2 separate regions of the Homo sapiens genome follow, and region 2 is linked to region 1. A link means that fine-mapping ties the variant in region 1 to the expression of a gene that starts in the linked region. Tissue or cell type: whole blood. Region 1 holds a variant in brackets; the other region holds the start of a gene. All regions are shown on one strand. Distances are between the middles of the regions.

What was found. PIP is the estimated chance that this variant, and not a neighbour inherited with it, causes the effect.
Region 2: SPOUT1 starts here. The variant in region 1 is fine-mapped to the expression of SPOUT1 in whole blood (TOPMed, PIP 0.98).

Annotation. Positions count from the first base shown.
Region 1 is chr9:128,745,150-128,750,313 of GRCh38, forward strand. All of the region lies in intron 8 of ZER1 (zyg-11 related cell cycle regulator), which reads right to left. It overlaps LOC124902340 (small nucleolar RNA U13), which reads left to right and starts at 4,209; the gene lies at 4,209-4,312. The variant C/T (reference allele first, on the strand shown) is at 2,978.
Region 2 is chr9:128,827,024-128,832,146 of GRCh38, forward strand. SPOUT1 (SPOUT domain containing methyltransferase 1) reads right to left here and starts at 2,771. Exons shown (of 12, transcript NM_016390.4): 1 at 2,722-2,771; 2 at 2,087-2,132; 3 at 1,712-1,837; 4 at 9-168. The coding sequence starts at 2,757. KYAT1-SPOUT1 (KYAT1-SPOUT1 readthrough) reads right to left here. Exons shown (of 25, transcript NR_182311.1): 14 at 2,722-2,982; 15 at 2,087-2,132; 16 at 1,712-1,837; 17 at 9-168. RefSeq lists enhancers at 1,235-2,165, 2,963-3,022 and silencers at 2,503-2,682, 3,499-3,722.

The DNA.
Region 1 (5,164 bases):
AGTTTTCTTTGTACTGTCTGCAGGTTTATTTGCTTATTGATTTGTTTGGGTTTTTTTTTTTTTTTTTTTGAGACAGTGTCTGATTCTGTTGCCCAGGCTGGACCATAGCTCATTGCAGCCTCAAAATCCTGGGCTGAAGCAATCCTCCTACTTCAGCCTCCTGAGTAGCTGGGACTACAGGCGCACATCACCACATCTGGCCAATTAAAAAAAAATTTTTTTTTTGAGATGGAGTCTCATTTACTCTTATCACCCAGGCTGGAGTGCAGTGGCATGATCCTGGCTCGCTGCAACCACCTTCCAGTGCAAGCGATTCTCCCGTCTCAGCCTCCCAAGTAGCTGGGATTACAGGCACCCACCATCATGCCTGGCTAATTTTTGTATTTTAGTAGAGACAGGGTTTCACCATGTTGGCCAGGCTGGTCTTGAACTCCTGACCTCAGATGATCCACCCGCCTCAGCCTCCCAAAGTGCTGGGATTATAGGTGTGAGCCACCTTGCCTGGCCTTTTATTTATTTTTAAGACGCGGTCTCTCTGTTGCCCAGCCTGGAGTACAGTGGTGCCATCATAGCTCACTGCAGCCTCGAACTCCTGGGCTCAAGAAATTTTTCACACCTCAGCTTCCAAGGTGGCTGGGATTTCTGGGTATGTGCCATCACACCCCGCCTTTTTTTCAGTTTAAATTTTATTTTATTTATTTATTTTTTGAGACAGAGTCTCACTTTGTCACCCAGGCTGGAGTGCACTGGCACCATCTTGGTTCACTGCAACCTCTACCTTCTGGGTTCAAGCAATCCTCCTGCCTCAGCCTCCCTAGTAGCTGGGATTACAGGCACACACCACCACGCCCGGCTAATTTTTGTATTTTTGGTAGAGATGGAGTTTCGCCATGTTGGCCAGGATGGTCCAGAACTCCTTGCCTCAAGTGATCCATCTGCCTCAGCCTCCCAAAGTGTGAGGATTACAGGCATGAGCCACTGTGCCCGGCCTTTTTCAAAAAAATTTTACAAGTGAGGATATATCTTTTTCCTCTAAGAACAGTTCTAATTGCAGAATGGCTAGGTCAAAAGATAGATGCATTTAGAATTTTGGCAGGTTCTGCTGGTTGCCCTTCACAAAGGTTGCACGATTCATCCCTTACCAGTAGACAGGGTGTGAGGGTGCTCTTCCCTATCTTTGCAACACTGGGTATCACCAAGCTCTTGAGATGAAATGTGACTTCCTCTTATTTTGATTTCCATTTCTGTGACAGATTTATTAATTCATTTGGGAGTCTCCAACTAGTCTTCTTTTTCTCTCTTCTTTTCCTTTTTTTTTTTTTTTTTTTTAAGACAGGGTCTCCTCTGTTGCCCAGGCTAGAGTGCAGTGGTAGAATCTTAGTTCACTGACTGCAGCCTCCACTTCCCAGGCTCAAGCAATCATCCCACCTCGGCCTCCGAGTAGCTGGGGCTACAGACGCATAGCACCACACCCAGCTAATTAAAAAAAAATTTTTTTTTTTTGAGACAGAGTTTCACTCTCGTCACCCAGGTTGGAGTGCAATGGTACCATCTCGGCTCACTGCAACCTCTGCCTCCTGGGTTCAAGAGATTCTCCTGCCTCAGCCTCCTGAGTAGCTGGGATTACAGGTGCCCACCGGCACACTCAGCTAATTTTTGTATTTTAAGTAGAGACCGGGTTTCACCATGTTGGCCAGGCTGGTCTTGAATTCCTGACCTCAGGTGATCCACCCACCTTGGCCTCCCAAAGTGCTGGGATTATAGGCATGAGCCACTGCGCCGGCCTAAAAAAATTTTTTTGTAGAGAAGGGGCAGGTGGGCAGGTCACTTGAGGCTAGGAGGAGTTCCAGACCAGCCTGGCCAACATGGTGAAATCTTGTCTCTATTAAAAATACAAAAATTAGCCAGGCGTGGTGGCATGCTCCTGTAGTCCCAGCTACTCAGGACACTGAGGCAGGAGAATCGCTTGAACCTGGGAGGTAGAGGTTGTAGTGAGCCGAGATCACACCACTACACTCCAGCCTGAGCAACAGAGACTCTGTCTCAAAAAAAAAGAAAAGAAAAAATATACACACACACATACTGCCCCTGAAATTCTACAACTCTACTTACAGAAATGTATTATAAGGATAACTAATTAAGTATAATTAACAAAGCATTGCTTGAGAGAGCAAAAGATGAAACAGCAACCTAAATTATTTGGCCCTGGGGGCTGTTTCACACACTGGGCAGAGCCTTGACCTTGGCCACTCCCTCCAAGCTCCAGCAGAGTCCTCCACACAGTGGCCTCTCCCTGGATGAGGACACTGAACATATGCTGGTGTCAGCAGTCATGAAAGTGAGCCTTAACACCAGCTGCATCTAGAGGAGGAGAGGTGAGATTGTAAGTGGCTTTCGCTCTATTTAATACATTCTTGTATCACTTGAATTTTTTCATCTTTTAAGCATTTAGGTATCTTTTTTTTGTTTTTGGTTTTGTTTTGACACAGAGTCTTGCTTCGTCACCCAGACTGGAGTGCAGTGGCACGATCTCAGCTCACTGAAATCTCCACCTCCCGAGTTTAAGCAATTCTCCTGCCTTAGCCTCCGGAGTGGAGTAGCTGGGACTACAGGCACCCGCCAGTATGCCCGGCTAATTTTTGTAGTTTTAGTAGAGATAGGGTTTCACCATGTTGGCCAGGCTGGTCTGGAACTCCTGATCTTAAGTGATCTGCCTTCCTCGGCCCTCCAAAGTGCTGAGATTACAGGTGAGGGCCACCACACCTGGCTTAAGCATTAGATATCTTTTGTAATCAGAAAAGAAACATTATTAAACAATTTTTGGGCCTAGTGCAATGGCTCATGCTTATAATCCCAGCACTTTGGGAAACCAAGGCAGGAGGATCACTTGAGCTAGGGGATAGCAAGGGCAACACAGCGAGACCCCGTCACCACATACACACAGACACACACAAATACAAATTAGCTGACTGTGGGC[C/T]GGGCATGGTGGCTCATGCCTATAATCCCAGCACTTTGGGAGGCCGACGCAGGCGGATCATGAGGTCAGGAGATTGAGACCATCCTGGCTAACACAGTGAAACCCCGTCTCCACTAAAAATACAAAAACTTAGCGTGGCAGGGTGGCGGGCGCCTGTAGTCCCAGCTACTCGGGAGGCTGAGGCAGAATAGCGTGAACCTGGGAGGTGGAGCTTGCAGTGAGCCGAGATCGTGCCACTTAACTCCAGCCTGGGTGACAGAGCGAGACTCTGTCTCAAAAAAAAAAAAAAAAAAATTAGTTGGGTGTGGTGGTACATGCCTTGTTGTCCCAGCTACTGGGGAGGCTGAGTTGGGAGGCTTGCTTGAGCCTGAGAGGTGGAGGCCACAGTGAGCTGTGATCATGCCGCTATACTCCAGCCTTGGCAACAAAGTGAGACCCTGTGTATTTGTTTTTGTTTTTCTTTGTGACAGAGTCTCCCTCTGTCACCCAGGCTGGAGTTCGGTGGCTTGATCTCAGCTCACTGCAACCTCTACCTCCTGGGTTCCAGCAATTCTCCTGCCTCAGCCTCCCAGGTAGCTGGGACTACAGGCGCCTGCCACCATGCCCAGCTAATTTGTGTATTTTTAGTAGAGACAGGGTTTCACCACGTTGGCCAGGCTGGTCTCGAACTCCTGACTTCAGGTGATCCGCCTGCCTCAGCCTCCCAAAGTGCTGGGATTACAGGTGTGAGCCACCGTGGCCAGCTAATTTTTGTATTTTTTAGTAGAGATGGGGTTTCGCCATGTTGGCCAGGCTGGTCTCAAACTCCTGACCTCATGATCTGCCTGCCTCAGCCTCCCAAAGTGCTGGGATTACAGGCGTGAGCCACCACGCCCAGCCTGAGACCCTGTCTTAATTAAAATATATATATATATATTGTGGCTGAGCACGGTGGCTCACGCCTGTAATCCCAGCACTTTGGGAGGCCGAGGCAGGTGGATCACCTGAGCTCAGGAGTTCGAGACCAGCCTGGCCAACATGGCGAAACCCTGTCTCTACTAAAAATACAAATATTAGCCTGGCATGGTGGCACGTGCCTGTAGTCCCAGCCACTAGGGGGGCTGAGGCAGGAGGATCACTTGAACTCAGGAGGCAGAGATTGCAGTGAGCCAAGATTGTGCACTGCACTCCAGCCTGGGCGACAGAGTAAGACTCCATCTCGAAAAAATAAATAAATAAAAATTATTGTTTGATCCTTTCGTAGTTTATAAGAGTGATGATTAGGTCTTCATGCTCATGTGTGAAATGTGCCTCCCTCAAACCATGTTAGGACGTTGGCATATTGCCCATCTGAAATGAAAAAAAGTTTTTGTTATATAAATATGTTGGCTGGGTGTGGTGGCACATGCTTGTAATCCCAGCACTTTGGGAGGCTGAGGCAGGTGGATCACCTGAGGTCAGGAGTTCAACACCAGACTGACCAACATGGCAAAACCCCGTCTCTACTAAAAATACATAAATTAGGCAGGTGTGGTGGCATGCACCTGTAGTCCCAGCTACTTGGGAGGCTGAGGCAGGAGAATCACTTGAACCCGCCACTGCTCTCCAGCTTGGGCAACAGAGCAAGACTCCATCTGAAAAAAAAATTTGTTGGCTGGCCAGGCGCAGTGGCTCACATCTGTAATCCCAGCACTTTGGGAGGCTGAGGCAGGTGGATCACCTGAGGTCAGGAGTTCGAGACCAGCCTGACCAATATGGTAAAATCCCATCTTTACTAAAAATACAAAATTAGCCGGGCATGGTGGCGCATGCCTGTAATCCCAGCTACTCGGGAGGCTGAGACAGGAGAATCACTTGAACCCGGGAGGTGGAAGTTGCAGTGACCCGAGATTGTGCCATTGCACTCCAGCCTGGGCAATAAGAGTGAAACTCCATCTCAAAAAAGAAAAAAATTGTTGGCGGATAAGGGAGATGTTCATATTCATGTGACAACACAGTTGAAGTAAAAATCCACCATATACAAACAGTATGCAGTTTGTGTATCCCATTTACAAAATATGTGTGCATAGGCTAAAATTCACAATTGATATCCCATGTTAATGGTGCCTGTCTCTGGGTAGTGGGTTTATGGGTGATTTTTATTTTCTGTATATCTGTAATTATAACTTTTCTATAATAAAGGCTTTTATTACTTTTATATTAAAAGCA
Region 2 (5,123 bases), 82 kb after region 1:
CCCCTTACTTGGCATCCTGGCCCTCCTCATCAAACACCACGATCTCATCCACACAGAAGATGGCACAGGCTCTGGCAATCTGACCGGCCAAGTAGGTGCGAAGCTCCGGCGACTGAGCATTGTCCAGGATGGAGCCCGGCAGGGCTACGCTCAGTGTGTAGGGCCGCCCTGAGCAGGGGAGGGATGTTCCCAGCCAGTGTGAGAGGCAAGGGCCCCCTACCTTTCTCTCCCTTCCTCTGTCCCTAGCGCCCATGGTTTGAGAATTTCCCAAGTGGGAGGAATTTTGAGATGAGCAAAATAGATCCAGCTCCCCTCTCTGGGCCTCAGTCTCCCAGCAGTCTCCATGGCTCCTCTGAGCAGGGCAAACCACTGGGCGAGGCTGTGGAGCGGTTAGTAGCAATGGCCTAAGTTCACATCCTGGCTCTCCCACTTACTGCCTCAGTTCTCCAGCTATCAAATGGGGATAAAATGAAAGCTGATATCTAATAAGTCTTTAGTGTGTGCACATTAACCCGATAGCCATTAACCTGATCCCTAGTGAGGATACTGCCATTATCCCCATTTACAGACCAGGGGCCTTCAGCCCCGGGAAGTCAAATACATGGCCCAAGGTCACACAAAAGGTGGCTCATGCCTGTAATCCCAGCACTTTGGGAGGCCAAGGCGGGCGGATCACCTGAGTGAGGTCAGGAGTTCAAGACCAGCCTGGCCAACATGGCGAAACCCCGTCTCTACTAAAAATACAAAAATTAGCTGGGCATGGTGGCGCATGCCTGTAATCCCAGCTACTCCGGAGGCTGGGGCAGGAGAATCGATTGAACTGGGAAGTGGAGATTGCAGTGAGCGGAGATCGAGCCACTGCACTCCAGCCTGGGCAACAGAGCGAGACTGTGTCTCAAAAACAAACAAAAAAGCCCAAGAAGCACATAGATAACATGGTTTCACTGTTGTAACATTGTATCTGTACTTTGCTACACATGGATAAGTAGCTATAATTGTTTGGACAAGCTTTTGCTACAATGTTTGCTGGGATTGTTCCTGTCTTCTTTGTAGTTTTCTTTCATTTTTATTATGAAATCAAAATAATTGAAAAATGAAATTAAAGCACACAGAAAATGCTCAATAAAAAAGTCAAAAAATCAGGAAGATCATGAAGTTCTAGAGGTCTAAGTTAAGAGATATGAGGCTTGGGCCGGGCACGGTGGCTCATGCCTGTAATCCCAGCACTTTGGGAGGCTGAAGTGGGCAGATCACCTGAGGTCAGGAGTTCGAGACCGGCCTCCCCAACATGGTGCAACCACGTCTCTACTAAAAATACGAAAATTAGCCAGGTGTGGTGGCACACTTCTGTAATCCCAACTACTCGGGGGGCCGAGGGAGGAAAATTGCTTGAACTTGGGCAGTGGAGGTTGCAGTGAGCAGAGATGGCGCCGTTGCACTCCAGCCTGGGCAACAGAGCAAGACTCCATCTCAAAAAAAAAAAAAAAGAGAGATAAGGCTTGCCTTCCATAGGCTTGAAATTTACCTAAGCAGGAGGTCAGAACTCAGTTTGCTGGCTCCCTCCCTTCTCTGGGCCTCAGTTTCTCCATCAGGACAAGATGTTTGGACCTACTGGTCTGTAAAGGCCCTTTCAGATAAGACATCTCTGCTCTGCCTGCAGGACAACTACCGTGGGCCACAACCTGTGGCCCTCCCCAAGACCCCAGCTCACCGCGGTCCTCCTTCTCTGCCGCTGCCTCCTCCTCTTCCAGGCGCTTTGCCTGTTCCTCCTGTGCCCGCTGCCGCTCCAGTTTTTTCATCAGCTTGAGATCCTTCCATTTTTTTTTCTCCTCTTTCTCTGGATAAAAGAACATCCTAATTGGCCAAGGAGACAGTTCCCACTCATTGGGTCAGCCTGGACTCTGGAGAGCTGCTGGGTGAGCAGCCAGAGGGCAGCAAGGGAGCCTCCCCAGGGCTCCCGGCCCCTGCCTCCCCACTTTGTGTGCTGCAGGACCCAGAGGGAACAAAGTTGGTGTCTTTCTCCAGGGTTTGACTGAGCACTGGTGGAGTGGCCTATGGGAAGATACTCTTACCCACCCTTACTTACTCTGTTGCTTCCATTTTCGCCACTCAATCCTTTGGCCGTGTTCACCCTGGAGAAGGAGTGGTAGGAGGATTATGAGTGTGAGGCTGATGGTCACACCTGGAGGGGGTCCGTTTGCTGCACCATAGCCAGCCCCTCCACACGGGGCGGCAAGGAAGCCAAGGAACCTCTGCGAACTGCTGCCCCAGAAAGCGGCAGGAGGGCAGGGACCCGCTGTATCCCCAGCGCCTGGGACCCAGCCTGGCACACAGAAAGCACTCAAGAAACTGTCGAATGAGTTCCCACAAAACAGAAGAGAAAACTGAGGCTCAGGGTACAGCACTGCCCACAGTCGCCCTGGAAGTCAGAAAAGGGCTCCAGAAGCCACGAAAGGGCTCCGGATTCAGCATCCGGAGGCGAGCAGGGTCCCGCCTCCGTAATCCAGCGGGGGCCAGGGAGCCGCAGGGGGTTCCGGAGAGGACACGGGCGCTGTTCCCATCCTGCTGAGGCTCACGCGGCACCTTCGGGGGCTTCCGGCCTGGGATCAGCGGGAAGCAGGCAGCAGGAGGCGCGGCCCGGCCCCGGCGAAGGCCCCCACGCCACTGGTTCTCACGCCTCCACCATGCTGCCCTGCACGGGGTCCCGCCGCCCGCACTTACCGGGCCGCACGGCCGCTTCCTGCCGCGCTCCGCCATGTTCCGCACACACCGTCGGTCCCGCCTCTGCCAATGAGACTCGCCTCTTCCGGCCACACCTCCATTAAGCTGTCCAATCGGAGAGCCAATATCGCCCAGGGGCGTGGCCTGGGCGCCCGACGGGCTGCAGGGGTACGCGGGCTGGAGTAGGTTGGGCAGAGTAGGTGTCCAAATAGGCGGCATCGCGGGTACTGTGCTGAATTTTGGATGGCTCGGAGCCCCCCTCTGAGTTGGGACAAATACAACACTCAGACCTCTGAGTAGTTCACTTGTTTAAAAATAATTTTTTTTGAGACAGGGTCTCGCTATGTTGCCGAGGCTGGAGTGCAGTGGAGCAATTCTAGCTCACTGCAGGCTTGAGCTCCTGGGCTCAAGGGATCCTCCCACCTTAGCCTCCCGAGTAGCTGGAACCACAGGTGCGCAGCACCACGCCTAGCTCCTGGAAGGCTTTATACATGGGGACCCTGGGGCCTTGAGCTGTAGTGTGATTCAGAGCTGAAAATGAGATAATTTACTCCAGGTTTCTTATAGATTCGTTCACGTACTCTTTCTTTTTTTTGAGACAGAGTCTCGATTCATTGCCCAGGCTGGAGTGCAATGGCGCGATCTCGGCTCACTGCAACCTCCACCTCCTGGGTTCAAGCAATTCTCCTGCCTCAGCCTTTCAAGAAGCTGGGATTACAGGAGCGTGCCACCATGCCCAGCAAATTTTTTTGTGTGTGTTTTTAGTAGAGATGGTGTTGATGTTGGCCCCGTGTTGGCCAGCCTGGTTGAACTCCTGACCATAAGTGATCCTCCAGCCTCGGCCTCCCAAAGGGCTGGGATTACAGGCGTGACCCACTGCACCCGGCCTTTTTTTTTTTTTTTTTTTTTTTTTTTTTTTTTTTTTGAGACAGAGTTTCGCTTTTCTTGCCCAGGCTGGAGTGCAATGGCTCGATCTCAGCTCACAGGAACCTCCAACTCCTGGGTTCAAGCGATTCTCCTGCCTTAGCCTCCCGAGTAGCTGGGATTACAGGCATGCACCACCACGCCTGGCTGATTTTGTATTTTTAGTAGAGATGGAGTTTCTCTATGTTGGTCAGGCTGGTCTCGAACTCTTGACCTCAGGTGATCCGCCCACCTCGGCTTCCCAAAATGCTGGGATTACAGGCATGAGCCACCACGCCCGGCCTCGTTCTCTTTTAATTAACAGACTATATTAGTTGGGACTACAAGTGTGAGCCACCATGCCCGACTAATTTTTTTTTTTCTTTTTGTACAGATAGTGTCTCACTATGTTGCCAGGGCTGGTCTCAGACTCCAGGGTTCAAGCAATCCTCCCAACTTGGCTTCCCAAAGGGCTGAGATTATAGACTTGAGCCATTAATGCCTTTTATTTTTTGAGATCTAGTCTCACTCTGTTGCTCAGGCTGAAGTGCAGTGGCATGATCTCGGCTCACTGCAACCTCTGCCTCCCAGGTTCAAGCAATTCTCCTGCCTCAAGCTCCCAAGTAGCTGGGATTACAGGCGCCTGCCACCAAGCCCGGCTAATTTTTGTATTTTTAGTAGAGACGGGATTCTCCATGTTGGTCAGGTTGGTCTTGAACTCCCGACCTCAGGTGATCCACCCGCCTCGGCCTCCCAAAGTGCTGGAATTACAGGTGTCAGCCACCGTGCCCGGTCTCGAACTTAGATTTTTTTTTTTTTGAGACAGTCTCGCTCTGCTCTGTCGCCCAGGCTAGAGTGCAGTGGCGTGATCTCCGCTCACTGCAAGCTCCGCCTCCTGGGTTCATGCCATTCTCCTGCCTCAGCTTCCCGAGTAGCTGGGACTACAGGTGCCCGCCACTGCACCCGGCTAATTTTTTATATTTTTAGTAGAGACAGGGTTTCACCGTGTTAGCCAGGATGGTCTCGATCTCCTGACCTCGTGATCCACCCGCCTCGGCCTCCCAAAGTGCCGGGATTACAGGTGTGAGCCACCGTGCCTGGTCTCGAACTTAGATCTTATACTAAATTTGTTGTGATTTTTGACAGGTTTATTTTGTAGGCATGACTGATTAAGACATTGGCCATTTGAAAAAACAAACACAAAAATCCCCCCAAAACAACAATAACAAACAGACATGGACCATGTGATTGGGCTCAAAGTCTAGTCCCTCACACCTCCATGGAGGCAGAGATGGAGGGGGCCCGATGGGCTAAAAGTTCTGACCCCGTAATCGTACAGTGCAGAGGGATTCCATGTGACTAACAAGACATGCCTATCTTCCAGAAACTCCAAGGATTTTAGGAATTCTTTACTAAGGACCAGGGGCAAACACCAAATATGTATTTTATTATATGATATATTCCTATCAGCTCCCCCAGTTAAACATATGATATGAGCC